6 linked regions of the Homo sapiens genome follow. The protein of the gene in region 6 purifies or fractionates together with the protein of the main gene of each other region. This does not show direct contact. Each region holds a gene or a part of one and is shown on either strand. Other genes may lie near its edges. The genes, in order: SULT1A1, USP34, TTC1, TLE3, TTLL12 and SRXN1.

Region 1 (5,587 bases), on a different chromosome or scaffold from region 6:
CTGGCCCCATGCCTTGGTAGCTGTGAGGCGTCACTGCTTTGGGTGACCTGATCTGGCTGTGATGGATGAGCACGGGGGAAATAGTGGAAGACTCGGAATTAGAAGACGTGAGTGGGCTTTGGCCCCAGCCTCCCTACCCCACTCCCTGTCCTGGGCTGCCTGTGACCAACCTTGTTTCTGCAGGCACACTGGATAGCCCTGCTGGAGCTCAGTGTCCCTAATCCCCTCCAGATACTGGTGGCCTAGGGGAGGTCATCAAAGACCGGTGGGACATCGACCTCAGCCCGTTTCCACGCTTTTTTTTGTTTTGTTTTGTTTTTTTGAGACCGAGTTTCACTCTTGTTGCCCAGGCTGGAGTGCAATGGCGTGATCTTGGCTCACCGCAACCTCCGCCTCCCGGGTTCAAGCGATTCTCCTGCCTCAGCCTCCCAAGTAGCTGGGATTACAGGCGTGTGCCACCAGGCTTGACTAATTTTCTATTTTTAGTAGAGACAAGGTTTCTCCATGTTGGTCAGGCTGGTCTCAAACTCCCGACTTCAGGTGGTCTGCCTGCCTCGGCCTCCCAAAGTGCTGGGATTACAGGAGTGAGCCACCGTGCCAGGCCTTCTCCAGGCTCTTGGCACCTTAGCCAGAAACAATTTAAGGACAAGTGCAAAAGTCATGAATGTAGGCAGATTTCCTGCAGAGTAAAGGGACTCACTGAAGAAGAGGAACGTGGGGGTCCTCAAGAGAGTGTCTCATGCCCTACAAGGTGTGGGGCTGACCTTTATGGGCTTCTTCAACTAAAGAGGGGTATATTCATGAAGAGTCCAGGAAAAGGTAAAGATTTCTCAAGACCGTGGTGCCACAATTTACACCCAAATACAGGTGTTCCTGGAGCCGTCTTGGCACTGGTGGGTGTACGGTTTCATATGTTACTGATCATACAATGAGATCCTAGGTGAAACCTACATCAAATACAGCGCCATGTTGTGTCTGGTTGGTCGTAGCCAGCTTGGTCCTCATCCTATTTTTCAGGGACTTATTGGCCCTTAGCGCATGCAGCTATTTCAAGTTTCCTTCTTCTCCTCATGTGAAACTGCTGCCTGGGATTTTGTATTCACTTGCTACCACTCTATTAATCTCACATTCTCGCCTCTTTTCTGTGTCACCCCGTGTGGGTCCGACAGGTTGTTACTAGAGTGCAATACAAAGTCTTAGTCAAGGGAACCTCCTGAGGGTTGCTGAGGGCAGGGGTGGAGCTAGTAGCCTGAGGACCTGCCAGTCACGGGGATTCCTCATGGGCACAGAGGAGGGAGGAGGGGTCCATGGCCCTAGCATATGAGAAGCCTCTCCTCTGCCTGGAATTCCCATGCCTCAGCTTCCCCCACACTCCCACCTGTCCGCTTGCCTCTGAACTCACGCATTTCTTGGAAGTCTTGGGAGATTCACCTTTACTCAGATGGTTGTTTACCTGTCTCGTGCACAGCTTGACCTTGGACTTTAAAGTGAGGATAAAGAACGAGGAGGATGGGGGGATGCCCCCCTTCCACGGGGCCCTGTGGCTTCCAAACCTCGGCCTCCTCTGGTCTCTTGTCTGTGGAGCCTCCTTCAAACCCAGGGAAATAAAACCACCTGCCACGGGTTGTGGTTCTTCTAGGATCTTCTATCAATGTTCTCTGAGGTCCCCAGGAGCCATGAAGCTGGGGCTGACTCCCAGGGCAATGGGACTGCAGTGTCCTTGTTCTTTCTTGTTCTATGCATCCATGCTCTGCTCCACCCCTGCCCCTTCACTCTGCCCACACACATCCCTCTAGACTGGCCTTGTGGTCAGAGCCTGGAGTGCATGGGCTGCTGGGGGCCTGTGGGCTGCACTGGGCCAGAACCCCTGGCACCTTCAAGACTGGCCTGGAGCCAGCAGGTAGGTGACCTTTCCAGGGCCTGCCTATCCCAGCTTTCTCCTCCAATCCCTCCCCTCTCTTGCCTGGGTCAATTAGAGAGAGCTTGTCTGTTGGCTGCCTGGCAGGGTGGAGTTCAGGGGCAGGTCAGGAGCCCAGTGACAGCTCGGAAAAAAAAAAAAAAAAAAAAAAAAAACAGAAAAAAAAAACCTACAAAAACAAACCCACCATTGGGCCTTTCCCCTTTCATTCTTCTGTTTTCTACACAGCAAACTCAGTCGTGGCTTTGGAGATCACTTTAAGCTTGTCTCCAGCTGGCACACTAAGGAGGGTAATGGAGAAGCTCCCCCACCCCCAACCCCACCCCTTCCTTCCGGAAGCAAATCTAAGTCCAGCCCCGGCTCCAGATCCCTCCCACAGTGGACCTAGGAAACCCTCAGCTCAGAGAACAACCCTGCATTCCCCACACAACACCCACAATCAGCCACTGCGGGCGAGGAGGGCACGAGGCCAGGTTCCCAAGAGCTCAGGTGAGTGACACAGTGGAACGGCCCAGGGCGCCCTCACCCTGCTCAGCTTGTGGCTCTAACATTCCAGAAGCTGAGGCCTCTGGCATCCCTGCCCTTTCCCCATGGATATCCCATTTCAGACAACCCTGGCCTGCGTGAATCCCCCTCCCTTCCCTTGTTTGTTTGTTTTTTTCCCCGGGGAGGCCAGGTCTTGCTGTCACCCAGGCTGGAGTGCTGTGGGATCCTGGCCACTGCAGCCTTGAATTCCTGGGCTCAAGTGATTCTCTTGCCTCAGCCTCTGGAGTAGCTAGGACTACAGGCCCTCATCATCCTGCCTGGTTAATGTTTAAGAATTTTTTTAAAGATTTTTAGAGATGGGGTCTTGCAATGCTGCACCAGGTTGGTCTCCAACTCCTGGCCTCAGCCTCCCTAGGGTCTGGGATTATAGGTGGGAGCCACCCTGCCTAGGCCTGTGCTTTTGCTGAGTCATCAGAGTTTTGTTCATTCCCACAGCAGCTCTGGCCCCTAGTAGCAGCTCAGTTCCTCAATGGGCCGTGTTTGTCCTGGAGCCCAGATGGACTGTGGCCAGGCAAGTGGATCACAGGCCTGGCTGGCCTGGGCGGTTTCCACATGTGAGGGGCTGAGGGGCTCAAGGAGGGGAGCATCTCCACTGGGTGGAGGCTGGGGGTCCCAGCAGGAAGTGGTGAGACAAAGGGCGCTGGCTGGCAGGGAGACAGCACAGGAAGGTCCTAGAGCTTCCTCAGTGCAGCTGGACTCTCCTGGAGACCTTCACACACCCTGACATCTGGGCCTTGCCCGACGAGGGTGCTTTCACTGGTCTGCACCATGGCCCAGGCCCTGGGATTTTGAACAGCTCCGCAGGTGAATGAAAGGTGAGGCCAGGCTGGGGAACCACCGCATTAGAGCCCGACCTGGTTTTCAGCCCCAGCCCCGCCACTGAGTGGCTTTGTGAGTGCGGGCAAGTCACTCAGCCTCCCTAGGCCTCAGTGACTTCCCTGAAAGCAAGAATTCCACTTTCTTGCTGTTGTGATGGTGGTAAGGGAACGGGCCTGGCTCTGGCCCCTGACGCAGGAACATGGAGCTGATCCAGGACACCTCCCGCCCGCCACTGGAGTACGTGAAGGGGGTCCCGCTCATCAAGTACTTTGCAGAGGCACTGGGGCCCCTGCAGAGCTTCCAGGCCCGGCCTGATGACCTGCTCATCAGCACCTACCCCAAGTCCGGTAAGTGAGGAGGGCCACCCACCCTCTCCCAGGTGGCAGTCCCCACCTTGGCCAGCGAGGTCGTGCCCTCAGCCTGCTCACCTCCCATCTCCCTCCCTCTCCAGGCACTACCTGGGTAAGCCAGATTCTGGACATGATCTACCAGGGTGGTGACCTGGAGAAGTGTCACCGAGCTCCCATCTTCATGCGGGTGCCCTTCCTTGAGTTCAAAGCCCCAGGGATTCCCTCAGGTGTGTGAGTGTGTCCTGGGTGCAAGGGGAGTGGAGGAAGACAGGGCTGGGGCTTCAGCTCACCAGACCTTCCCTGACCCACTGCTCAGGGATGGAGACTCTGAAAGACACACCGGCCCCACGACTCCTGAAGACACACCTGCCCCTGGCTCTGCTCCCCCAGACTCTGTTGGATCAGAAGGTCAAGGTGAGGCAGGGCACAGTGTTTCACATCCATAATCCCAGCACTTTGGGAGGCTGAGGCAGGCAGATCACCTGAGGTTGGGAGTTTGAGAGCACCCTGAGCAACATAGAAGAACCTTGTCTCTACTAAAAATACAAAATTAGCCGGGTGTGGTGGCGGGTGCCTGTAATCCCAGCTACTCCGAAGCCTGAGACAGGAGAATCACTTGAACCCGGGAGAAGGAGGTTGTGGTGAGCCAGAGATCCCACCATTGCATTCCAGCCTGAGCAACAAGAGCAAAACTCACAAAAATAAATAAATAAATAAATATATAAATAAAAATAAAACTGTGGCACCTGTGGTGGCTCACTGCTGTAATGCCAGCACTTTGGGAGGCCAAATTGGGTGGATCACTTGAGCTCAGGAGTTACAGACCAGCCCGGGAAACATGGGGAGTCTCCATCTCTATAAAAATGCAAAATATCAGCAGGGCATGGTGGCATAGCGCTGTAGTTCCAGCTACTGGAAAGTCTGAGGTTGGAGGATTGCTTGAGCCTGGAAGGTCAAGGTTGCAGTGAGTTATTATCACTCCAGTGCACTCCAACTTGGGCGACAGAAAAAAAGAAAGACCACGGTCCTTTTTTTTTTTTTTTTTTTTTTGAGACTCTCTGTCTCAAAAATAAATAAATAAAATAAAATAAAATAAAATAAATCCCACAATAAAAAGAAAAAGCAAAGGTCCAGGTGTGGGGCATGTGAATCCAGGGAAGGAGGCCCTGGCTCAGCCCAGCTTTGGTCCTGTTCTTCTGGGAAAGTCGCCTCACTTCCTCCAGCCTTGTCTCATCTTCTGCGGCGGGGACTGTCTGCCTCTTGCTCTGATGACCAAGAACGTAAGACTCTTCAGTGTAGACCTAAGAAAGCTAGAGGGTGGGTCCTCACAGGCCCACAAAATTTGGTGGCGGTGGGATCACGGCTGGTGGAGCATGCCTTGCTCCAGATTGGGGTGTGACGCATTGATGCAGATTATATTACTATAGAATATGATGGTCTCAGGGACCAGGCAGGACTTTGGCTTCTGAGCAGGGTTCAGCTCCTGACTTGGCCCTACCGGTGCCGTGAGATCTCAAACAAGTCAGCCTCTAAGCCTCAGGTTCCTCCTTTGCCAATCCAAGAGATGAGCTGGCCTGGGACAGGCTGTGTGGTGATGGTGCTGGGGTTGAGTCTTCTGCCCCTGCAGGTGGTCTATGTTGCCCGCAACGCAAAGGATGTGGCAGTTTCCTACTACCACTTCTACCACATGGCCAAGGTGCACCCTGAGCCTGGGACCTGGGACAGCTTCCTGGAGAAGTTCATGGTCGGAGAAGGTGGGTTTGATGGGAGGAAGGAAAGTGTGGAGCTAAGGGGTGGTGGCTACAACGCACAGCAACCCTGTGTTGGCACCCCTTGCCTGCTTCTCCAGTGTCCTACGGATCCTGGTACCAGCACGTGCAGGAGTGGTGGGAGCTGAGCCGCACCCACCCTGTTCTCTACCTCTTCTATGAAGACATGAAGGAGGTGAGACCAC
Region 2 (4,787 bases), on a different chromosome or scaffold from region 6:
CAAAACCTCTAGCAGAAACCCTGTCAGCAGTCTGTCCTTTAGCTTTTCATAATCTGTAGTTTTTCAGGGGTCTGATGCACTTGTTTTCTTACAGCGATCTCCTTGAAAACAGGAAAGATTACTGTTCCTACCTTAAGTGTCTAAGAGCCAACTCCTTAAAATTAAGTGGCTGCATAAATAATGCTTGTTAAGTTACAAAGGCAGAATTGGGAAGAGGAGGAGGTACTAATGTTTGGCTCATTCCTTGGATCAGGCATAAAGGATCCCCACTACCTTTCAGTCCCTGAAAAAACTGTTGATTGTACTGCCTGGTTGCATCTGCTCTACCCCATTGGAAGAGATGAATTTATTCACCTTCCTTAGGTGCAACCCTTGACCCACATCATGCTTTCCTGAAGTATTTTGAGTCTGGTTCAGCCTCCTACCAGGCTGTAGTGTGCTCTGGATTCTCCTAGATGTTTGCCATCCTGTACTCTACTGGTGGTTTCTCTACTTTTCCAAAACAGAACTCAAGTGTAGAGACCTTATCAGAGTCATCTCCATCCCCTGAAGAAATGCCACGTTGTTCTCTACAGTAGAAATCTTTCAGAGGCTAGTATACACTGATCTTAGCTCACTTGACTTAGCATACAGTAGGCATTCAGAAAATGACTTTTATCAGTTGATTTTTGAGCTGAGTGTTCTGTTCAGTCAATTGGAGATCTCGTTTTCCCTCTCCACTGCTACTGCTGTTCTTTTTCATTCTTCCTGATTTGGGTAGTTTCTTGGTTTCTGTACTCTCCCACTACCTATTGCTCCCTATTGCTTTCTCTACTTCTGCATCGCAGGACTCCCTTCGCTTGACTTCTTTCACAGACAGAACTCACTGTGCCCCCAAATTTCCCTTAAAACAAAGCCTAACCATATAAGGCCTCCAAAGCTTCCAGTGCTATAGAAGCAGCCATCCTGAGCAAGAAACAGAGGCAGAGGCACAGGCTGTGACTGGTAGACCAAGGCAGGTTTTTCCTAGTGTTAAGGATCTCAAGACCTGGGTCTTGGTCCTACTTGAATCCTAATTTCTTGACTGACCTTGAGTAATTTACTTATGACAGCTGCATACTTTAATAAGATATACACATATGCATATATATATATATATAATCTAAATTTTGTCCTATTTAAAAAATATATTGCTTTTTTCCATATAAATTATTAAAATGCACATTTAAATCTATGGAGTGTATCTGCTTAAAGACATACTACTTGTGTTTAAGAGCCATGACTATTTGAAAACAGGAAAACCAAATTTTAGTAAAATTTCCATATATTGAGACCACTGATTCTGTGTGAGATAATTAGGAAAGAAGATTTATTGTTTACCCTTGCAGTGTTTATGGGGGGAAAAGGTATTTACAGAATTACTGTTGCTAGCGAGAATATACAGTAAAGTTTAAAACATTTTGGAGAATTGATTTTGATTCTTAAAATGTGTCTTTTTGCAACATATGCTCTGGTTACCTATAAATACATTAATTTGGCCCTTGAAAACATTCACATCCTATTCTTTGTTAGCCTTATTTTTCCAGTCCTTGTTAACTCTCTCAGTGCTGGATAATAAACCTGCATTTCTTTTAAAACATTTGTTCAGTTTCGGCATCAGTGTCTTCCCCCAGCACTCCCTTAATCTAAATTAGTAACATTTTACTGTATGAAAAATAGTTGCTGTTAACTAAAAATTCAATAGGTGAGTTAGACATGGCTTTTCAAGTAGGATTTTCAGTGGCTTCAGATTCCATCATACACAAGTGTATGTTTTTTCTGTGTAAGTTTTTTCCGTGTAAGTTTTTTCCGTGCTCAACCGTAAGTGCTCAACCATCTTCTCCCCACTTTAGTCTGCTATGTCAAAAAACTGCATCAAGCTTTTGTGTGAAGATCCTGTTTTCGCAGAATATATTAAATGTATCCTAATGGATGAAAGAACTTTTTTAAACAACAACATTGTCTACACGTTCATGACACATTTCCTTCTAAAGGTACGTAGTACTTTGGAAACTCAGTGTGTCATTTCTAATTAGTTAATGCTTGTGGTTTCATTATGCTGGTCTTTTGGAGATTTTTTTAAATCTTCTTTTTCAGGTTCAAAGTCAAGTGTTTTCTGAAGCAAACTGTGCCAATTTGATCAGCACTCTTATTACAAACTTGATAAGCCAGTATCAGAACCTACAGTCTGATTTCTCCAACCGAGTTGAAATTTCCAAAGCAAGTGCTTCTTTAAATGGGGTAAGAACTATGCAGAGGCGGCGGCACACACTTTTAAACTGTCCTTCAGTTAACTGTGTGGCCTTCATATGATTTTACTCTCGTAACTTTAACTTACTGATTCAAACTCTTAAGCCATGTGCGACAAAAAAACAAGTTTTAAATACACGTTTACTATGCCTTGTATGTACACAGCACACTCTATCACCTTGGAAGCTACAAGCTGGTATCATTAAATGCTGAAAGGTAATAAAGGGAACATCTTAGTGGTCTTATCTCTAGTTGGGTATATTTTTGGAAACAATACTTGTGATGTTTCTATTACTGCCTATGGCTCCTATGTAACTGAAACAATTAATGATCTACTGATTTAAAAAAGGCAGTTAAATCTAGAGCATTAGTTGCCTTGTGCAGACTCCCATGACAGCCATGTCCTAGAATAATGGAACACTCTGGAAATGGGCTAGAATGTTGAGCAGCAGCCTCCCAAATCACAGTATGCATAAAAGCCAAAACAGATGACAGAGCTCAGTAAGGAAGACCTTACTATTTGTGACATCCATCAGAATTTTAACTTGAGAAACTGATTTCAAGGTTTGTTTTTAAAATTCTTATATTTCCTTTTCCATTTTTCAGAAAACACTATTTCAGGCTTTGGTCTGACTTACTGGTTCGTGGGCATAAAATAATGCTATTAGTGACTTTAAGAACTAATGAGGCTGGGCACGGTGGCTCATGCCTGCAATCCAAGCATTTTGGGAGGTCGAGGCCGGTGGATAACGAGGTCAGGAGATTGAGACCATCTCAATGGCCAACATGGTGAAACCCTGTCTCTACTAAAATAGAAAAAATTAAGCCAGGCGTGGTGGCGGGCGCCTGTAGTCCCAGCTACTTGGGAGGCTGAGGGAGGGGAATCGCTTGAACCCGGGTGGTGGAGGTTGCAGCGAGCCGAGATTACACCACTGCACTCCAGCCTTGCCAAAGAACAAGACTCCATCTCAAAAAAAACAAAAACAAAACAAAAAAAAAAAACAACTAATGAAATGCTGTAGTATCTTAACACTGGCTTTCTGGTTTTATCATTCTAAGAATCCCAGAGAAACCAGGGTATTCTTAGGAAAGAATGGATTCCTGGGAAAATAAACATCTGCAATTAACTGTAAACAACTGCATCAAAGTGTTGGCTTTAGAATTTGAAATGTTCCTATCTGGGTTTTTGTAGGACCTGAGGGCACTCGCTTTGCTCCTGTCAGTACACACTCCCAAACAGTTAAACCCAGCTCTAATTCCAACTCTGCAAGAGCTTTTAAGCAAATGCAGGACTTGTCTGCAACAGAGAAACTCACTCCAAGAGCAAGAAGCCAAAGAAAGAAAAACTAAAGGTTAGCTTTATGGACTACTATCATTACCTTTAGGGTGGGAGGAGGGAGTAATACACTTGGTGTAACTGGTTTAAGAGTTGTGTGTTCAGCTGAACCTCCTAAATATAAATGCTAGAAACAAAATTAACTTCCCACATCCCCCCCTAACGTGATCTTAATGACTTTCAGAGAAGTTTCCCTTTTGGCATGTGTTTTCACAGATGATGAAGGAGCAACTCCCATTAAAAGGCGGCGTGTTAGCAGTGATGAGGAGCACACTGTAGACAGCTGCATCAGTGACATGAAAACAGAAACCAGGGAGGTCCTGACCCCAACGAGCACTTCTGACAATGAGACCAGAGACTCCTCAATTATTGATCCAGGAACTGAGCAAGATCTTCCTTCCCCTGAAAATAGTTCTGTTAAAGAATACCGAATGGAAGTTCCATCTTCGTTTTCAGAAGACATGTCAAATATCAGGTCACAGCATGCAGAAGAACAGTCCAACAATGGTAGATATGACGATTGTAAAGAATTTAAAGACCTCCACTGTTCCAAGGATTCTACCCTAGCTGAGGAAGAATCTGAGTTCCCTTCTACTTCTATCTCTGCAGTTCTGTCTGACTTAGCTGACTTGAGAAGCTGTGATGGCCAAGCTTTGCCCTCCCAGGACCCTGAGGTTGCTTTATCTCTCAGTTGTGGCCATTCCAGAGGACTCTTTAGTCATATGCAGCAACATGACATTTTAGATACCCTGTGTAGGACCATTGAATCTACAATCCATGTCGTCACAAGGATATCTGGCAAAGGAAACCAAGCTGCTTCTTGACATTAGGTGTAGCATGTCTACTTTTAAGTCCCTCACCCCCAACCCCCATGCTGTTTGTATAAGTTTTGCTTATTTGTTTTTGTGCTTCAGTTTGTCCAGTGCTCTCTGCTTGAATGGCAAGATAGATTTATAGGCTTAATTCTTGGTCAGGCAGAACTCCAGATGAAAAAAACTTGCATCTTCAGTATACTTCCTAAAGGGCAATCAGATAATGGATATGTTTTATGTAATTAAGAGTTCACTTTAGTGGCTTTCATTTAATATGGCTGTCTGGGAAGAACAGGGTTGCCTAGCCCTGTACAATGTAATTTAAACTTACAGCATTTTTACTGTGTATGATATGGTGTCCTCTGTGCCAG
Region 3 (4,787 bases), on a different chromosome or scaffold from region 6:
AGTCCTGCTGTCCTACTTCCTTCTGATTGCACAAGCAAGGTAGTCTCTGAAGAGTTACTGTAATGTCTTGAGTTTGTCTACAAAGAACTTGAACTAGATTGTAGTTTATGCCACTAAGGAGCTCACTCACTGAACAGGTTGTGATACATTGGTATTGAGATGAGATAATAAATGTTCAGCCTAAGCCTAACAGTGGGGGTGGGAAGGTAGCCTGGGGTGGGTAGGAGCATCTTCTCTTTCTCTCTCCTTAGACGCTTTTCATTATCAAATCAGTTAGCTTTAATGTGAACGTGTTCGTTTTTGTGCTAGTGTGCACCACCAGAACAGGAGGAAAAAGGGCAAAAGTGAGCCAAGTTCATAAACTACCACAGCAAATACAGCTCAAAAAAATTAACTACTGTTCCATAACATTATAACAGGTTTCAGGCTTTTTAGAAACACTGATTATGCATCTATGTTAAAAAGTTAGTAGTGCTTTTCTGATACCTTAATATATTTTGCCCTGAAATTATATTAATTTTCTAGTGCCCTCTGGATTTGACAGTTGAATGGTTTGGCTCAAGGTGTCACAAAGTCTGATCCCTACCTCTAATTTAGTAAAACTTTTTTTGTGTCTCCTAGGCCAGAAAATCATACTTTAAGTTCTATAAATACTTTTATGATTTTTTTTTTTTTTAAGACAGGATCTCACTGTGTCATCCAGGCTGGAGTGCAGTGATGTGATCACGGCTCACTGCAGTTTCAACCTCCTGGGCTCAAGTGGATCCTCCCACCTCAGCCTCCTGAGCACCTGGGACAACAGGCTTGCACCACCCTGCCTGGCTAATTTTTGTGGGTTTTTTGGTAGAGACAGTGTCTCACCATGTTGCCAAGGCTGGTCTCCAACTCCTGGGCTCAAGCAGTCCTCCCACTTTGGCCTCCCAAAGTGCTGGGATTACAGGCGTGAACCACCACACCCAGTGAGGATAATTATTTTTATTGCCTGTAAGTTTAATATTCTAAGTAGAACAATACTTTTTTTCACTTTTTTCCTCCTTTTAAAAATTGAGATATAATTTAGTGAAACTGTATATCAGTTCTCATGTGTAGAATGCAGTGAGTTTGACAATTGTATACACCTGCATAGTTCACGTTTCTATCAAGATAGAGAACATTTCCATCATGTCAGAAACTCCATTTGTGTGCTTTATCAGTCATTCCTTTCCCAACCCTGCCAGTCTCTGGTTAACCACTCTTCTGATTCCTGTCCCATAGGTGGTTTTTTCCTGTTCCAGACATTCATATAAACATAATCATACAGTAGTATTCATGTTTAAAACATAAATATTTTCTATTCATTTATATATCAGTCTAAGTGTTTTCATAGCTAATTTGAAAATTTGTAAGAATATCTCATAACAGTAACATACTGCAGTGCTAGTCTTATTATTTAGAGAAATGTAAGCCACTGACTCTACTTTAAGGAAACAACCTATAAGAGTGCAGATTGCCTTCAGCTAACTGTGGTACTACTCTTATTAGGTGTTTGTATGCTATTTTGATAAATATCTTTCCAAAATTTTCAAGAAGCCAGCGAAACAGATTGAAGAAATGTCTTCTACATATATGGTTTGGCTTTAATAGCTCATCAGAAACAGGATAGTGTTATATTTGAATCTTTTAAAATAAAGTTCAGATAGTTCAACAATGACTAAAAAAAAAAAATGGCCAAAAAATGTGAAAAGACTCAGCCTCATTAATAATGATGAAAAGTACAGGCTGGGCGTGGTGGCTCATGCCTGTAATCCTAGCACTTTGGGAGGCTGAGGCGGGCGGATCATGAGGTCAGGAATTCGAGACCAGCCTGACCAACATGATGGAACCCCATCTCTACTAAAAATACAAAAATTAACTGGACGTGGTGGTGTGCGCCTGTAATCCCAGCTACTTGGGAGGCTGCGGCAGGAGAATCGCTTGAACCTGGGAGATGGAGGTTATAGTGAGCTGAGATCAGGCCTCTGCACTCCAGCCTGGGTGACAGAGCAAGACTCTGTCTCAAAAAAAAAAAAAAAAATACTAACTAAAACATTATGTCTCATCTATCAGATCAGAATATTGATCTGATGTTGACAAGGAGAGGATGTTGGAACTCATATACTAATATTGAGAATTTAAATTGTTATGTCACTTCATGGGATGCAGATACCAAATTTTTATGTGACCATTTCTTTAGATAGGGCTATCAATAGACTCTTCTACAAGGATAGGAATGTTCTACATCCTGCACCATGCAGTATGGTAGCTGCTGACTACATCAGGCTATTGAGCACTTGAAATGTGGCTATTACGGCTGAGGAACTGAATTTTATTGTAATTAATTTAAATAGTCATACGGGATGGCTCACACCTATAATCCCAGCACTCTGGGAGGCTGAGGCAGGCAGATCACCTAAGGTCAGGAGTTCGACCCGAGACCAGCCTGGCCAACATAGTGAAACCCCATCTCTACCAAAAATTAAAAAATTAGCCAGGCCTGGTGGCGGGCTCCTGTAATCGCAACTACTCAGGAGGATGAGGCAGGAGAATTGCTTGAACCCAGGAGGTCGAGGTTGCAGTGAGCCGAGATTGGGCCATTGCACTCCAGCCTGGGAGACAAGAGCAAAACTCCGTCTCAGAAAATAAATAAATAGTCACATGGGCCAGGCATAGTGGCTCATTCCTATAATCCCAGCACTTGGGAGGCTGAGGCTGGAGGATCACTTGAGCCCAGGAGTTTGAGACCAGCCTGGGCAACATAGTGAGACCCTGTCTTTCCAAAAAAAAAAAAATTTTTTTTTAATTAAAATTTTTTAAAAAGCCTTTAAAAATAAAAATAATCACGTGTGGCACAAGCCTGTAGCCCCACCACTCAGGAGGCTGAGGTGGGAGGATCCCTGGAGCCTGGGAAGTCAAGGCTGCAGTGAGCCATGATCACGCCACTGCACCCCAGCCTGTGCAACAGAGTGAGACCTTGTCTCAAAATGAATAAATAAATAATTTTAAAATCGTCACATGTGGCTAGTAAGTACCATATTGGACATGACAGCATTAACGCTGATTCTCTTGTAGCCATTTATTTCAAGGAAATTATTAGAAATATACACAAATGTATATACATAGATGTGTTGCAGCATCATTCATAATTTTGGAAAGCTAGACAATGTTAAACAGGGTATTTGTAGTATAGTAAATTTATTTGGTCTTTGTCCCTGGTTCCTGTTACAGAGCCACTAGAACCCTTGGAATTTTCTGATAGTGTAGTGTATTTTTTTGTTATTCTTAATGTACCCCTTTTGATAACACCTGAGTTCATCCTAATGAGATAACTTTTAGGATCTGGCCTATCTATAGCCTAAGGAAGGATGGGGCCAGTCACCAAAAAGACTAAGTGATTAGAGTTTTAGAGGGTTGGAACTTTTGGCACCACCTACCAAAATCCAGGAAAGGAGGAGGGCAAGTGCTGGAGATTAAGCTCCATTAAAGCTTTTTTCTTCTTGTGTTTTGAGCCAAGTCTCGCTCTGTTGCCCAGGCTGGAGTGCAGAGGTGCGATCATAGTTCACTGGAGGCTTCAACCTCCTGGGCTCAAGCAATCCTCCTACATCAATGTCCCAAGTGGCTGGGACCACAGGCGCCTTCCACCACACCTTGCTAAATTTTTTTGTGTTTGAAATGAAGTCTTACTATGTTGCCCAGGCTGGTCTCGAACTCCTGGACTCAAGCAATATTCCCATCTCAGCTTCCCACAGTGCTAGGATTACAGGTGTGAGCTGCTGCGCCTGGCCTATAAAAACTCTTGAACTAGAAATCTGATGAGCTTCCAGGTTGATGAGCACATGGAAGTGTTAAGAGGGTAGCACCCAGAGAGGGCGTGGCAGCTCTGCACCCCTTCTCCCTCTACCTTTCCCTGTGTGTCTCTTCACCTGGCTGTTCTATATCATTCATAATGTCCTTTGTAATAAACTACTAAGTGTAAGTAAAGTGTTTCCCAGAGTTCTGTGAGCCATTCTAGCAAATTATTGAACCCACAGAGAGGGTGGTAAGAACCCTGTGCTAACCATTCAGTCGGAATCATAGGTCACAACCTGGGACTTGTGATTAGTGTCTGAAGTGGGGCCAGGCTTATGAGACTAAACTCTTAACCTGTGGGATCAGACACTGTCTACCTGGAGATAGTGACAGAACTGAATTGAATTATAGGACACTCCGTTGGTGTCCATTGGAGAATTGTTTAGTGTGGAAAACACTCTCATCTGGTGTCAGACCTATTGGGAGGGTATAGTAGGAGAGAAAAATGTGTTCTTCCCAGAGTATTACTTAAATTTTGTTGTTATATTTATGTAGTATACAATGCAGTTGTTAAAGGTAAATCTTGGCCGGGTGCAGTGGCTCATGCCTATAATCCCAGCACTTTGGGAGGCCAAGGTGGGCAGACCACTCAAGACCAGGAATTCAAGACCAGCCTGGCCAACATGGTGAAACCCCATCTCTACTAAAAATACAAAAATTAGCCAGGTATGGCGGTGCACACCTATAGTCCCAGCTACTTAGAAGGCTGAGGCACGAGAATTGCTTGAACCTAGGAGGCGGAGGTTGCAGAGAGCCGAGATCACGCCACTGCACTCCAGCCTGGGTGACAGAATGAGACTCTGTCTCAATAAATAAATAAATAATTTAAAAAATTTTTTTAAAAAGATGAATCGTAGGTATTGACCTGGGAAGCTGCCTGTAATATAATGTCAAATTAATTAATCAGGTTATACAACAGTGAT
Region 4 (4,787 bases), on a different chromosome or scaffold from region 6:
CATTCATTCAGGCATTCAGTAAATGTTAGTTTTCTTCTCTTGCACTAGTTGAGAAGAAAGATGTGTGCATAGGTGGATACCAGCATACCTAACTTCTCTTTCAGTAGTGGAGAAGAAGTTGGGTGGGGCGAAGGGAGAGGAAAGAGAAGCCCAAGCCCCTGAGGCTAGTGTTGAGTGGGGAAGTTGGGCCTCTGGAGCCAGGGCAGCGGAGTCCTTGACTGGGGAGGAGACAGGGAGAATTGCATTGTTGTTGATAATACTGACTTGCTGCATGGCAAGTTTTTAGAAGGGTTCAGCAATCCATTTTAAACTCTTTGTAAATGTTAGCTACTGCCATGAGGCTTAGTAGCTGTGCGCCATGAGCTGCTGCAAACATTATCTTACAATAATCCTCTGGGGTCTGCTGCTTTCCCCCTTTACAGATAAGGAAATTTGAGGCTCCAGGACTTGAAGTAACCTGCCCCAGGCCACACAGCTAGGAAGTGCCAGAGCTGGGATTTCAATCCTGTTCTGTCTAGTTCCAAAGCCTCCACTCTTCCAGTTACCCCGTTTTCCACCACTGATGTCCGGTGACGTTAGCTCTCATTCCACTGGCCCCCAGCTCATCTGGCTCTGGGGCCTTTGCTGTGATGACCTGCCCTGCCCCTGCTCTGTAAGGCAGGCTTGGAGTTCCTAAGAAATAAGGAGCCTTCCCCAGGGTCCAGCCTCAGGGTGGAAGATGCTGGCAGCTAATGCTGAAGGCATGTATGCATGAGCAAACACTGCCAGGGCTGTGAGCTTAAAAATGGATCCCTCTCTACTCAGAGGGAACCCCATGACTCTGCGGTTTTTTAAATGCATGCATTCTTTATCTCAGGCTTGGAAACAAACATTGAGAAATTATTTGTGAAACGGGGGTGCAGGGAGTTGGGGGGTGCTTGAAGACATAAATCTTTACATTACAGTCTATTAACAGACTTCCTTCAGCGAGACATTCATGTGAACTGAGCTGGGGGCAAAGGTTTTGGGGGTGCTTCCCCCTGCCACCCACCCAGTGAAGGAGCAAGAGGAATGGGAAGAGCCACTCCCTCCCTCCCTCCTGAGGTGGCCACGCCTCCCCTGCCCTCCCCAACTCAGCTGTACTCACCACCGACTTCATTGCAGCAGCAGCAGCTCCAGGCGCAGCACCTCTCCCATGCCACACACGGCCCCCCGGTCCAGTTGCCACCCCACCCGTCAGGTCTCCAGCCTCCAGGAATCCCCCCAGTGACAGGGAGCAGCTCCGGGCTGCTGGCACTGGGCGCCCTGGGCAGCCAGGCCCATCTGACGGTGAAGGATGAGAAGAACCACCATGAACTCGATCACAGAGGTGCGGCTGGGCTGGGGCAGAGGGTGGGGCGGGGCAGGGGTGGGCATGGGCGCTCATAGGCCTCACAGTGAGTGGACCCAGCAAGTGCTGTCGTCCTAAGACCAGGAGTTACCAAGGATTTGGAGTCATCTGTTGATACCTGGTGCAGGGAAGCCAATGCCATCCGCATCCCATGCACCTTTTCCTACTCCTTGGTGTGGACCTGGTATTCTCTGTCCTGAAGACCCTGTCTGTTCATCTGGAGCTCGCTCCCATCTTCCTACAACACCCTTGCCTGTCCTTCAGGGGCCAGCCCCAGTCCAACCCTTCAGGATGCCTTCCTGGTCAGACTAGGGGCTTTTTCAAGTTCCTGTAAGAGTTTAAGAGTTGGGATGCCAAAGTTGAGTCCTTGTTACTGTCGTCTTACATCCTACCCCTGGAAAATGTCTTGTGCTCACCACGATCATTAGTTCCCTAGGACAGGTGCCAAGTTCTTGGGTGTTTTCCTTACATCTATGTCTCACCAATGCAGAAACCTGGGAAAGGTGCACAGTCAGTGCTCAGGTAAAGGTTTGTTAGCTGACTGCCTGTAAGTGGGGGTAGTGCACACCCCAGCAAGAGATCACATAGACTTGGAGTCAGAACTTGTTCTCTGACCCTCTCTGCAGCCCCTACCATGAGGACCCATGAAGCTGCACCGAGCTTGGCCTCAGGAGTGGTTCATTGGATCAGAAAAGAGAAAAGCCTGGCTCCCTGGGAGGCCCTTTTCAAAAATTGGTGCCAAATGCACTCTGCCCTTAGATACGGTATTTACTGGGGCACGTAGCCAACACCTTCTGAGCACTAGGGACCTGGAATGTCACCATCCTGCCTTGGCCCAGGCCACAGGGTGGTAGCCGGTCCAGGGAACTGGAGGCTACATTTTTTTGTCTTACAGTAGGATGGTCCTTTTGGCAGAGGAAGAGGGGCCTCTCCATAGCAGACAGGAGAACTGGGGAGCTAGTGCTTAGCTGGGCACAGTTTCAGAGGCTTCAGCTTTTAGGGGCATCCTGACAAAGAATCACAGAATGGTGTTAATTTCAAAAACAAAATTAAACCACTGTTAAATTCCTTTTTTTTTTTTTTTTTTTAACAATAAAGTTCTTAACTCCCAGGTCCTACTGGTATTTTATATGGCATGATCCTTCTCAAGCTTGTGATCTTAAGACCCCTAGCCTGCTAAAGAGTAAACTTGGTGCCCTCTGGCATGACAGGGAGAACTGGGTCAAAGGCCTACCCTCCCCACCCTGGGGACTGGGCCTCCCTTGCCCACCCTGGGGACTAGAGGGGTGGGGGCAGCATTGGAATTTGGGTGGCAAATTTCCAAACCGAGAAACGCCACCTAATGGCCCTGCCTTGGCTGATCCACGGAGACAGCAATCCAGGCCTTCTGCTCATTTTAAAACCAGTGCACTAGCAAATCACAAAAGCCAGCTGGACTTAGACTGACCTTTTTCCTTTCTTTTTTGTCTTTTTGTTTTGGGGTGCCTGACCTTCCTCCTGTCCTGGCCTTCTTTCCCCAAAGAGAGAGAATCCAGTGCGGTAAGTGTTGGCACTCTGGAACCCGGAGGGGTGTTTGGGTGCTGGGAGGAGGTGGGACTCGGGGCTCCCAGAATCGCGGGCCTGAGACCAGTCAGTCGGTATCCAAAGCTGGCTTCTGGGTTCCCGCTTCTGCTCTGTGGGTTGTAACTAGGGATTTTGTTGTTTGTTTACTCTTGCTGAGCTGGGAGCTTCAGTGCTGATGTCTTAGTCCAGAGCCAGTGGCAGGGTGAGGGGTAGCTACTGTCATAAAATGGGAGCTGCTGTCGTCACCTGTTGAGAGTGACCTTCAGTTGTGGAAGCCCTTCCTCTCTCCAGGCTTTAGGTCTGCCATTTGTCAAATGAAGAGCTTGGGCTAAATGAGCTCTAACTCCGTTTCATATGAGAGGTGATACTCTGAGAGGTCAGCTGACCAGCCCTGGATCTTCCATTGCGAGGGGCTTTGTGGAGTCTCTGGGCTAAACCCAGGGCTAAGGACCCAGGTGTCCCATGTTCAGGGCCAAGGTTTTTACCACCCCCCTGCTAGGATGCCTCCTGTATGATCTTGCATCCTCCTCATTCCCTTCAAACGCCTGCAGTTTCTCCCTGCTCTGGGCTTTCACTCGATTTAAGAAAGTGCTAGCAGGCGAGCATTAAGGCCAGGCCGCCTGCGTGTCTGCCAGCTCTGAGATTTGTTGTAAATCTTTCTGATCACACTGAGGCTCCGAGGTTCTGTTTCAAGTGAATAAGCCTTCTGAATAAGCGCAGTGGAGTCTGGATAAAAAAAATCCTCCAGCGATTAGCAAAGCTATTTTATTCCTCATCGCTGTCCTTGTATCTGGGGCCATCTAATCTGTTAGGATGGCTTTGGTTATTACCTCGTGTTAAGTAGGACTTGGAAGGTCAGGCAGTTAACTAACCATCTAGACAGCAGCTTCCTTGCGCAGCTCTCTCCAATCCAGCCCTCCTTCCCTTCCTGGCCCTCCCCCTACCCAGGCTGACTTTTTAAACCTCCCATTAGCAGTGAGGCTGGCGTCCGTGGCCTCTTGACCCGCCTACATGCTCAGAAATCCAGGACCACATTTGGGCTGAGGAATGGCTAGGTACCTAAGAGAGGAGTCATTGAAGCTGAAAATCCATGTTCACTGCCTCGGTACTGATCCTCTAACAGTGGCATTTTTTCGGAGAGGCAGTTTGCCTAGATAGGCGGAGGCCTGGATTGGACATTTTAAGGCTGAGGTCTGGTCCCAGCTTTATGAGGCCCTGTGTAGTTCTCTTGGCCTCTCTGAGCCTCAGTTTCCTTATCCATACCATGGGAATAATTCCTGCTTGACCAACCTCTCAGCTTTGTTTCGGAAGACCCTTTATAACCTGACTGAGGATCCAGATTACCTGGCTAGCAGGGACCCACTTCAGTGGAATTGGAGGGGGAGTGGGAAGCCCAGCACTCTCTAAAGAGCATGAGTCTTTACCTCATCCTCATCCCTATTGGCTTCTGGCTTTGTGCCCCATCTGTGAAAGTTTTCTGCTAAAAGACCCCCCCTGGGAACCCCCAAGAGCTGGGCTGTTTACCATGCTCGCTGAGGTCCATGCATGGCACACATGGGCCTCAGGAAACTCCAGTGGGAATGAATCAAGATGCTGGGCAGAGGCAGCAGTGGGCAGGGCCGAGGCTGTGCGCATGGCATGTGGCGTGGTGACGGTGTCAGCGGCGGTGTAGACTGAAATAATCAGGCTTTGGAAACCAGGTTGTCAACAGATGAGGCCTACGGCAGGAAGGACAGGGCTGTGTCAGAGTGGGAGGGGGGATGGGGGGACGGGCTGGAAGCTGTCCCAGAGGGGTTAGTCTGGAGTCCAATTAGTGGTAGCTTCATTCATATTTCCTTGCCTAGCCGAAGCAATA
Region 5 (4,787 bases), on a different chromosome or scaffold from region 6:
TGGGCTGACCAGGAAGAGGAGGAGATACAAGGCCACGCATCCTTGTTTTTTCCCATTTGACCCTTTACAATCAGGTCTGTGCTCTGGGCCCAGGGTTGCCTATGTTGATTAGCTATGGCTGGGTAACAAGTAACTCCAAAACTTAGCACCTTAAAACAGTAAACATTTATTATCTCACACGATTTCTGTGGGACAGGAGTTCAGGAGTGGCTCAACGGGGTGCCTCTGGCCTCAAGTCTCCCTTGAGGTACACAGGCCGCCCGTCGGGCTGTGGACCCGCTTCTGCATGGCATATGTGCATGCCTGCTGTGTTGGTGCTGACTGTTGGCAGCAGGCCTGGGCTCCCTGCCTTGTGGGCCTCTCCATAAGAGTGCTCAGGTGTCCTCAGGATGTGGCACCTGATTTCTCCCAGAGCAAGTGATCCGAGGGAGAGAGCAGAGAGGAAGCCTCAGGCTTCATGGCCTTGTTGCAGAAGCAACCCTGTCCCTTCCACCTTTTTCCTGCTCATTAGAAGCAACTCATTAGGCCCATCCCACCCTCAGAGATGGATGCGGCTCTGCCTTTGGAAGATAGTGTCAAAGAGTTTGTAGGCATGTTTTAATCTTTTTTTTTTTTTAATTTTTTAAAAAAGATAGGGTCTTGCTTTTGTCCAGGCTAGAGTACAGTGGCATGATCCTAGCTAACTGCCATTTCCAATTCCTGGGCTCAGGCAATCCTCCTGCCTCAGCCTCCCGAGTAGCTGGGATTCCAGGCAACTGCTACCAAGCCCCGCTAATTATTCAACTTTTCTGTAGAGACGGGGTCTCACTATGTTGCCCAGGCTGGTCCTACACACCTGGGCTCAGGTACTCCTCCACCTCAGCTTCCCAAAGTGCAGGGATTACTGGCTTGAGCCACCATGTGCAGCCACGTGGGCATGTTTTAAATCATCACACTGCAGAAGCTCCCGACAGCCCTCGTGGCTCCTAGGACAAAGCGGCTCCTCTCAGGAGGGGTTTGGCACCTTCTCGCCCCCTGCGATTTTGAGGTAGCACCGAGAAGATGTGCAACAATGTTTACCTTGTTCTTTTGACACCAAACTAGGACTGTTCGGCATCCGAGGGGCCTGGAGCCCCAGAATCCTGGGGTGAGGGGGGTGGTTAGAGGCTTTGGGGTGTTGGGAGGGAGGAGCAGCCATGCGCCCCTTGAGGCCATAGAACCTGATGCCAGGTGGTGAGGCTTGTGTCCCCTCCTTCTTTTCCTTTTTTTTTTTTTTTTTTTTTTTTGAGATGTAGTCTCACACTCTCTCCCAGGCTGGAGTGCAGTGGCGCAATCTCGGCTCACTACAACCTCCGCCTCCCGGGTTCAAGCGATTCTCCTGCCTCAGCCTCCCGAGTAGCTGGAATTACAGGCACGCGCCACCATGCCTGGCTAATTTTTATATTCTTAGTAGAGTGGGGATTTTGCCATGTTGGCCAGGCTGGTCTCGAGCTCCTGACATCACGTGATCCACCTGCCTCACCCTCTCAAAGTGCTGGGATTATGGACATGAGCCACCACGGCCGGCCTTTCCCTCCCTTCCTTGACCTCATCTCTACTTCCGGTGTGTTTCCTTTTAGGCCATTCTGGAGGAAAACAAGGAGAAGCTGCCACTTGACATCAACCCCGTGGTGCACCCCCACGGCCACATCTTCAAGTGCGTAGCCCCCCCCCACTGCTTGGGCTGGGACTTGTCCGCAGTCCCCGCCTCCCATGCTTCGTGGTTCCCACAGCCCCAGAACAGTGCTTGGCACGTGGCACGCAGCAAGTCAGCCGCATCCTGTCTGGGCACAGCAGTGACACGTGCAGGGAGTGGAGTTCTTGGGACCCCAGAGAAAATGCCGCAGAAAGTGAGAGAGCGAGCAGGGCTTTCTGGAGATTTTTTTTTTTTTGAGACAGAGTCTGTCTCTGTCACCCAGGCTGGAGTGCAGTGGCACGATCTAAGCTCACTGCAACCTCCACCTCCCAGGTTTCACACCTCACCTATGAGGCCAGGCATAGTGGTTCATGCCTGTAATCCCAGCACTTTGGGAGGCCAAACCAGGCAGATCGCCTGAGATCGGGAGTTCAACACCAGCCTGGCCAGCATGGTGAAAGCCCGTCTCTACTAAAAATACAAAAAAAAAAAAAAAAAAAATTAGTAGGGCATGGTGGCTGGCGCCTGTAATCACAGCTACTCGGGAGGCCAAGGAGGAAGAAGAATCACTTGAAACCTGGGAGGCAGAGCCTGCAGTGAACTGAGATCGGGCCACTGCACTCCAGCCTGGGCTACAGAGCAAGACTCCTTAAAAAAAAATAAAATAAATTCATCTTTGAAAGTTAAAAATAGGAATAGGCCATGGAAATGCTGGCAGTGAGTGGGTAAAGGGCCCCCTGGGCAGAAGCGTTGGCCACCACTGGTCCCCATCCCACCCCTGTCCTCTGGGCACCAAGGGGTCCTGTTACCAACCTTGCATGTCATGGGGCTGCTCCGCTTACCTGGATACGATGCTCATCCAGTCCTGGAAACCGACACTAGCCAGGCCTGTGCATGCCAGCCCTCCCCACAGCAGGGAGCCTTTGCTGGCCAGGAACATGCTGGGCACCCACAACAGGCACCCGGGCTGCCAGTAGGGGCCCCTCCCAGGAGGCTGCAGGTGTGGCTGTTGAGTTAAGGAAAGCCAGGCCGGCAGGTCCAGGCGGGACACCTTGCAGAAGCAGGCACAGGTGAGGACCCAGAGATGCAGAGCAGATTCCACCTCAGCCTTCACAGGAGCCCCTCCCTGAGGCTCCCAGACACTCCCCTTGGCTGCCCAAACCTGGTCTAGCCAAGAACAGGCAGGCTGCTCCACTCTGCCCCCTCCACCGGGCCTGAGGGCTTTCCTCCCTGCTGGCCTCTGCCCCAGCTGGGCAGCCCAGGGGCTCTTGCTGAGACGTGAGTCTTGTGGTGACCTGGCCAGGGCCTAAGGTCCCTCCACCTCCTCTGGGGCAGAGGCCTCACGGAGGCCCTTGGTGTGCCTGTCTGAGATTGGTGGCCCCAGCCTCATCCTCTTGTTTTGCATGTGAGAGGAAAGAACTAGCACATAATAAACACCCAAATTATGCCATTTAATTTTAATGACAAATGTGAGGTGGACGGTGTGGTCCAGTCCTGCGGATGGGGAACCAGGGGTCACAAGGGTACAGGTTGCGCCCCTCCCTCAGCAGATTGGAGGGAGCGGGGTCTGAACCCGGGCTGTCCAGCATCATGACTCGAACCCAGGACTTGCCTCTGCCTCATTAGCTTCAAAACAGGGAAGGGAGTCCCTGAGCCAGGGCTAGTGCTGGAGTCCCGCTTGGACACTTGGGAGCCGGGATCACCCAGCTCGGGCTCTCCCCACAGGGTCTACACGGACGTGCAGCAGGTGGCCAGCAGCCTCACCCACCCGCGCTTCACCCTCACCCAGAGTGAGGCGGACGCCGACATCCTCTTCAACTTCTCACACTTCAAGGACTACAGGTGAGGGCACCTCTGGCCGCAGGGGCCCTCCCAGTCAGGGCTTCTAGGCACTGCCGGCCTCCCCTTGAGCTGGCGCACCTGCCTCCGCCCTGCAGGAAACTCAGCCAGGAGAGGCCAGGCGTGCTGCTGAACCAGTTCCCCTGCGAGAACCTGCTGACTGTCAAGGACTGCCTGGCCTCCATCGCGCGCCGGGCAGGTGGCCCCGAGGGCCCACCCTGGCTGCCCCGAACCTTCAACCTGCGCACTGAGCTGCCCCAGTTTGTCAGCTACTTCCAGCAGCGGGAAAGGTGGTAAGTCCCAGACACGGCATCGGTGTGCTCCATGGCCCTTTTCCCCGGCCCAGCGTCTGTGTCCGCCTGCTCCTCCATGAGCACCCACTGTGGAAACCGTGGTGCAGGAGCCGAGCTGTGGGCCCCGAACGTCACGGCCGTCTTCACGGACCGCAGGACCTCTCCAGGTTTTTGCTGGGGCTGTCCTCTCCACCGCAGCGCAGCTGCCTGGCCTCTGGCAAACCCCTCCTTGTTTCCCATGCCCCTGCCTCTGACAGCTCTCTGGTGCCCCCTCAGCTCCCAAGGAGAAGTGGGCTGCCCTCTTCTGCCTCTGGGTCCTGGGGTGGCACCATCTGGGAACACAGGCCCCAGGCGCCCCCCAGACAGCCCTTCTGCTCCCCAGGGGCGAGGACAACCACTGGATCTGCAAGCCCTGGAACCTGGCGCGCAGCCTGGACACCCACGTCACCAAGAGCCTGCACAGCATCATCCGGCACCGAGAGAGCACCCCCAAGGTGGGCCCCGCAGACCAGGAGCCCCAGGGCTCAGGGCCCTGGCTGGACAGTGAGAGGTGGGGCTAAGGGGACCGAGCATCATGGTCCTTATGGACAGGTCCAGGCTGGGCAGGGTGGCTTACACCTGTAATCTCAGCACTCTGGGAAGTGGAGGAGGATCACTTGAGCCCAGAAGTTTGGAACCAACCTGAGCAACATAGGGAGACCTCGTTTCTACAAGGGAAAAAACTTTAAAAATTATCTGGGCATGTTGGCACACACCTGTAGTCCCAGCTTCTCAGGAGGCTAAGGCAGGAGGATCACTTGAGCCCGGGAGGTTGAGGCTGCAGTGAGCTGTGATCGCGTCACTGCACTCCGCCCTGGGCGACAGAGCAAGACCCAGTCTTTAAAAAAAGAACTGTCCTGGGTGCGTCTAATCGCAAAGTTCCTACCACATAGTGTGCCAGGTATGGCTGCCCAGCAGGGTGAGGTGGCTGAGCCTGGACAAGGAGCCTCTCAGAGCCGTGG
Region 6 (5,373 bases):
GCTTGTGACTGCTGCACCTTACTGCTGAATAATCATTTGTGGAATCATGAGAGAGAACCCGTGGACCAGCAGCAGGAGGCCTTCCACGCCGCTCACACTTAATGGGGTCTCCCCAGAGTGCTCTACCCTGCACCCGTCCTGCCCCAGACTTTCCCTGTTTAGAGGATGACCTACTCTCCACCTGGCTGTGTGGGCCCCTAACAGGAAGTCAACTTAGATTCTCCCTTTTCTCTTGCCCTTGGATTCACCCCTTCTGCCAGACCCCTTGGGCCTGCCCCGTAAATGTGTCCCAAACCTGTCTACCTCTCCCTGTCCCCACCACACCATCATCCAGACCAGCATCTTCTGCTGAATACCTGCAGAGGCCTCCCCTCTGCCTTCCAGCCCTGTGCCCTGTCCACCCTGCCAAGTCTGTTCTCCTGTGACAACTTTCTAGAACATGCATCAGATCATGTCACCCTCCCCTGTTGCCAACACTCCAGGGCCCACCCACTGCTCTCAGAAGCAGACCTGCACCATCTGGCTCCTGCTGGCCTTTCTGACCATTCCTGGAGCCCTGGAGTCCACTCTAGTGAACTCCTTGCTGTGCCTCCTACACAGTGAACGTGCTCTGGTTTCAAGTCCTTTGCGTTTGCTGTTCCCTTTGCATGGAACGTTCTTCCCTCAGGTCATACACAGCATACATTACTGAGCACTTTCCGTGTGCCAAGCATGGTTTGAAGTGCTTTATATATATTAACCCATTTAACCCAAAAATTCTATGAGATGGATCTGTTATCTCCATCCAATTTGATAGATGGGGCAACTGAGGCACAAAAAGATGAATTGCCCAAGATCACATAGCTGTTAAGCAGCAGAGCTAGATTTGAACCCAGGCAGTTGAGCTCTTAATCGAAACTATTCCACTTCTCTCTTTTTTTTTTTTTTTTGAGATGGATTCTCGTTCCATCGCCGAGGCTGGAGTGCAATGGTGCGATCTCAGCTCACTGCAACCTCCGCCTCCTGGGTTCAAGTGATTCTCCTGCCTCAGCCTCCTGAGTAACTGTGATTACAGGCATACACCACCATGCCCAGCTAATTTTTGTATTTTTAGTAGAGACAGGGTTGTGCCATTTTGGCCAGGCTGGTCTCAAACTCCTGACCTCAGGTGATCCACCCGCCTCGGCCTCCCAAAGTTCTGGGATTACAGGCATGAGCCACCGTGCCCGGCCCCACTTCTCTATCTTTCCAAGTACTCTGCTTCATTCTTACCTCAGAGAGGCCTCGTGGACCCCATCTCTGTCCTGTCACCTGTGTTATTGTCATTATAGCATTTGTCACTCTAATATTTACTTCTTGTTCCATCTGCCCCACTAGACTGGAGCCCCTTGAAGCCAGGGCCTGATTCAGTCACATTCCAGCTGTACCGTATTCCCAGGGTCTACAACAGGGCCAGCTGGATAGTGTGCATGTGGTGTGCTGATACATGTGTGGGAGAAATCCCTGATTTGTAGCATCTGTCCATTTCTCTGGTGTAAATACTCTCCCATGGCTGATTTTCAAGCTACAAGGTGATGTCGAACAGCTCACAAAATTCCTGATAATTAACAGTTGTCTCTCACAGTAGTCCAGTGTGATCACCTTATAAGGAGCTCAGCACAAGTGGACAAAGTCTGCTTTACAAACTCTCAAGCCTTGTACCATGTCCATTGACTCTGTGCCTCTTCTCCCCAGGAGGACCCAGACAGCGTGCCCCCCATCGATGTCCTCTGGATCAAAGGGGCCCAGGGAGGTGACTACTTCTACTCCTTTGGGGGCTGCCACCGCTACGCGGCCTACCAGCAACTGCAGCGAGAGACCATCCCCGCCAAGCTTGTCCAGTCCACTCTCTCAGACCTAAGGGTGTACCTGGGAGCATCCACACCAGACTTGCAGTAGCAGCCTCCTTGGCACCTGCTGCCACCTTCAAGAGCCCAGAAGACACACCTGGCCTCCAGCAGGCTGGGCCATGCAGAAGGGATAGCAGGGGTGCATTCTCTTTGCACCTGGCGAGAGGGTCTGACTCTGGGCACCCCTCTCACCAGCTACAAGGCCTTGGACTCACTGTACAGTGTGGGAGCCCCAGTTCCCACCTCTGTGACAATAGGATCATGGCCTTACCCTTGAAGCATTACCGAGAAGGAGAACAGAGATGGGCTTGAAGAGCCACGTGCTGCCGGCTCCAAATTCCCAAGGACAAGGATCCCTCTGCATTTTTGTCTATGTAACCTCTTATATGGACTACATTCAGCTGCAAGGAAAGGAAAACCTTGATTGCAGTGGTTTAAACAAACAGAAGATTGTTTTTCCACATAGCATGGATTCTGGAGATGGGTGGCTAATGGTATTGGTTCAACAACTCCACGAAGGTAGGGGTCACGTCTTGGATCCTTTTGCCTTAATCTCAGTGCTCGTTACTTCATGGTCCCAAGATGGCTGCTGTATCCCCAAGAATCATGTCTGCGTTCAAGGAAGGAGGGGTGGAGGAAGAGGAAGGGCCAAACTAGCTGGACCCGTCACCTTCTATCAGAAAGTAAAACCTCGTCAGAAGTCTGTTTCCTGCTCTCTCCCTCTGCATATCTTCACTTAGATGCCCTTGGCCCGAGCCAGCTACCATTGCACCTCTAGCTGCAAACAAAGCTAAGACAGCAGGGAACAGAATTGTCATGGCTGAATAGACCAATCGTGTTCCATCTACTGAGACTGGCACACTGCCTCCTGCAATAAAACTGGGATCCCATTACCAAGAGAGAAATGCAGAATTGTGTACCAGTTAGCTTTTGCTGTGTAACAAACCATCCCCAAACTTGGCAGCTAGAAACAAACCCTGTATTTTCCCACAATCCTATGGGTTGGCAATTTGGGCTGGGCTCAACAGGGCAGTTCTGCTGCTCACACCTGGGATCCCTCATGGAGCTAAGGTCAGCTGTTACCTCAGCTGGGCCTGGATGGTCTAGGATAGCCTTACTCACTTGCCTGGCAGGTGACAGGCTGTTGGCTGGAATTGCTTGGTTCTCCTCCATGTGGCCTCTCCAGCAGGCTAGCTCAGGCTTATTCACATGATGGCTTCAGGATTCCAAAGAGAGTGAGAGTAGAAGCTGAAAGACTTCTTGAGTTCTTGGCCTGGAACTGGGACTAGGACAGTGTCACTTCTGCTAAGTTCTTTTGGTCAGAGCAAATCACAAGGCTTTACCCAGATTCAAGGGATGAGAAACAGACTACATGTCTTGATGAGGGGAACCACAAAGAGCTTGTGGCCATTTTTCACCTATCACAAATAATTTTGGATGGGTATTTATTTGGATAAAGGTATTTCCCTCTTCCCCCTTTCTCTCTGTCTCATGGGGCCTCACTCTGCCAAGTTGGAAGGCACTAAGACATTGTCCTGGCCCTCAGGGTCTAGGGGAAGAGGTGTTGGGGCAGGAAGTGAGTCTCTCCATGGGCTGGACCCACTGTAGTAGGAGTGCCTCCTTGTCTGCACTGCTGGTATGGGGTTAGGCCAGGTAGGACATTCCAGAGGGGCTTCTGAAAACCAAGAGTCCCTGGGGAAAGGGAACAGAGTAAGGCAGGCCTTGTTCTCACTGCCCTCTAAGGGAACTTGGTCACTCGGCACTTTTAAGCCTCAGTTTCTCCAGTTCAATAATAAGGACAAGAGCTTTTCCCATGCATTCTCTTTCCCCGGGAAAGTTGACTGAGGTGACCAGTAATAGAATTGAAAAGGGAGAGTGTCTTCAGTGCAATGTGGCATCCTGGATTGGGTCTTGGAACAAAAACAGGACATTAGTGGGAAAATTGGAAATCTGAAAAAAGTCTGAATTTTAGTTAATATACCAATTTCAGTCTCTTGGTTTTGACAGATGTACCATGGTGATGTAAGATGTTGACCTTGGGGTAGGCTGGGTGAAGGGTATACAGGAACTCTTTGTACTATCTCTGCAACTTCTCTGTAAATCTAGTATCATTCCAAAATAAAAGTTTATTTAATTTAAAAAAAAAAAGGGGGGGTGTGCAATTCCTTTAGACCAATGGTTCAGGGTCTCAAGCTTGTTTGCTAAATACCAGATTGCTGGGCCCCACCCCCACTTTCTTTTTTTTTTGAGACAGGGTCATGCCCTGTCACCCAGGCTGGAGTGCAGTGGCACGATCATGACTCACTGCAGCCTTGACCTCCCGGGGCTTAAGTGATCCTCCCACGTCAACCTCCTGAGTAGCTGGGACTACAGGTGCGCCCTTCTCATTTTTTTGTAGAGACAGGGTTTTGCTGTGTTCTCTGGGCTGGTCCTAAACTCCTGGGCACAAGCGATTCTCCCGCCTCAGCTTCCCAAAGTGCTGGGATTACAGACATGGCCACTGCCCCCGGCCCCCCAGAGTTTCTGATTGAGGCGAGTTGGGGCAGGGCCTGATAATTTGCTTTTCTAACAAGTTCCCAGATGTTGCTGATGCTGCTGTTCAGGGACCACATGCTAAGAGCTGCTAATAACTGCGTCAGTTATTTTCAAATACGGTGACTTCCCCACTTCCATCCCCAGTGGAATGAGTCTACTCATTCCCCCCAGCTTGTCTACTCATTAACTGTGTGACCTTGGGCGGTTCTGTCCCTTCCCTGGGGACTTCTTCCAGGCTGTCAAATGGATTGTGTACCCCTAAGGTTTGTAGCGAAGGTGAGGTGCCCCTGTCTTCTGTGAGTAAACTCCTCCTGTGCCCGCTGGGCTGGAATGAGAGTGAAGATGGTCGCCCCCTCCTGAAACAACTTTTCCTTCTTGCAGAGAAGACCCAACCAGACAGCGCTAAGGGCCCTGCCAGGCACTGCGAAGGAGGTGCAGAACAGATTCGGAGTAGAGGGGTACTGCTTGATCATTTAAGGAAGAGGAGCTGGGTTTTAAAGGGTGTAACCTGCTGGTAGCCGGAAGTTGCGTTTCCCTCTTACAGCAGCAGGTGGCGCTGCTCTCCGGCCCCCGCGGCAGGGCCGTCCCTCTGGCCTGCAAGAGCTACAGCTGTGGGAAGGGGCTGGATGCACGCGCAGGGCTGAAAGAGGCGGGATAGTTAACCCGGGTTCAGCCGGGATGAGTCTGGAGTTCAGGTTCTATTTATCAGCTCTTGTTCTGTAACCTTGCGCACATGTCTACCCATTCCTGTCTATACTGGGGGTGCTGGGCCAGAGAATCTCAGGCTCAGCAAAGGTGGTACCTCCTCCAAGAAGCTTCTGGGCTCCTACTGGCTGGGCTACCATGACCTACAGTGTCCCTCCCCAAAAAAACCTCTGCCCCCAGGAACTTGGCTCCAGTGAAAGGCAGTATGTGCCTTCACCGCCCTGGAACCCACCCACTTGACCGTGGTAGATTTAAATTTCCTTTT

What was found.
Region 1: the proteins of SRXN1 (region 6) and SULT1A1 fractionate together in Homo sapiens (co-fractionation; one large-scale study listed by BioGRID). This does not show direct contact.
Region 2: the proteins of SRXN1 (region 6) and USP34 fractionate together in Homo sapiens (co-fractionation; one large-scale study listed by BioGRID). This does not show direct contact.
Region 3: the proteins of SRXN1 (region 6) and TTC1 fractionate together in Homo sapiens (co-fractionation; one large-scale study listed by BioGRID). This does not show direct contact.
Region 4: the proteins of SRXN1 (region 6) and TLE3 fractionate together in Homo sapiens (co-fractionation; one large-scale study listed by BioGRID). This does not show direct contact.
Region 5: the proteins of SRXN1 (region 6) and TTLL12 fractionate together in Homo sapiens (co-fractionation; one large-scale study listed by BioGRID). This does not show direct contact.

The regions. Positions count from the first base shown.
Region 1 is NC_000016.10:28,606,751-28,612,337, reverse strand, and holds the start of SULT1A1 (sulfotransferase 1A1), read left to right. Parts: upstream 1-2,293; 5' UTR 2,294-2,407; exon of another isoform or gene 2,408-3,478; 5' UTR 3,479-3,482; coding exon 3,483-3,630; intron 3,631-3,734; coding exon 3,735-3,860; intron 3,861-3,949; coding exon 3,950-4,047; intron 4,048-5,260; coding exon 5,261-5,387; intron 5,388-5,482; coding exon 5,483-5,577; intron 5,578-5,587. UniProt on the Homo sapiens protein: Sulfotransferase that utilizes 3'-phospho-5'-adenylyl sulfate (PAPS) as sulfonate donor to catalyze the sulfate conjugation of a wide variety of acceptor molecules bearing a hydroxyl or an amine group.
Region 2 is NC_000002.12:61,187,743-61,192,529, reverse strand, and holds part of USP34 (ubiquitin carboxyl-terminal hydrolase 34), read left to right. Parts: intron 1-1,871; coding exon 1,872-2,012; intron 2,013-2,115; coding exon 2,116-2,259; intron 2,260-3,460; coding exon 3,461-3,620; exon of another isoform or gene 3,621-3,820; coding exon 3,821-4,428; 3' UTR 4,429-4,787. UniProt on the Homo sapiens protein: Ubiquitin hydrolase that can remove conjugated ubiquitin from AXIN1 and AXIN2, thereby acting as a regulator of Wnt signaling pathway.
Region 3 is NC_000005.10:160,011,707-160,016,493, forward strand, and holds part of TTC1 (tetratricopeptide repeat protein 1), read left to right. Parts: intron 1-2,952; exon of another isoform or gene 2,953-4,787.
Region 4 is NC_000015.10:70,062,575-70,067,361, reverse strand, and holds part of TLE3 (transducin-like enhancer protein 3), read left to right. Parts: intron 1-1,143; coding exon 1,144-1,348; intron 1,349-2,891; coding exon 2,892-2,908; intron 2,909-4,787. UniProt on the Homo sapiens protein: Transcriptional corepressor that binds to a number of transcription factors. Inhibits the transcriptional activation mediated by CTNNB1 and TCF family members in Wnt signaling.
Region 5 is NC_000022.11:43,173,208-43,177,994, reverse strand, and holds part of TTLL12 (tubulin--tyrosine ligase-like protein 12), read left to right. Parts: intron 1-1,598; coding exon 1,599-1,675; intron 1,676-3,379; coding exon 3,380-3,496; intron 3,497-3,591; coding exon 3,592-3,786; intron 3,787-4,168; coding exon 4,169-4,280; intron 4,281-4,787. UniProt on the Homo sapiens protein: Negatively regulates post-translational modifications of tubulin, including detyrosination of the C-terminus and polyglutamylation of glutamate residues. Also, indirectly promotes histone H4 trimethylation at 'Lys-20' (H4K20me3).
Region 6 is NC_000020.11:645,258-650,630, reverse strand, and holds the end of SRXN1 (sulfiredoxin-1), read left to right. Parts: intron 1-1,713; coding exon 1,714-1,917; 3' UTR 1,918-4,016; downstream 4,017-5,373. UniProt on the Homo sapiens protein: Contributes to oxidative stress resistance by reducing cysteine-sulfinic acid formed under exposure to oxidants in the peroxiredoxins PRDX1, PRDX2, PRDX3 and PRDX4. Does not act on PRDX5 or PRDX6.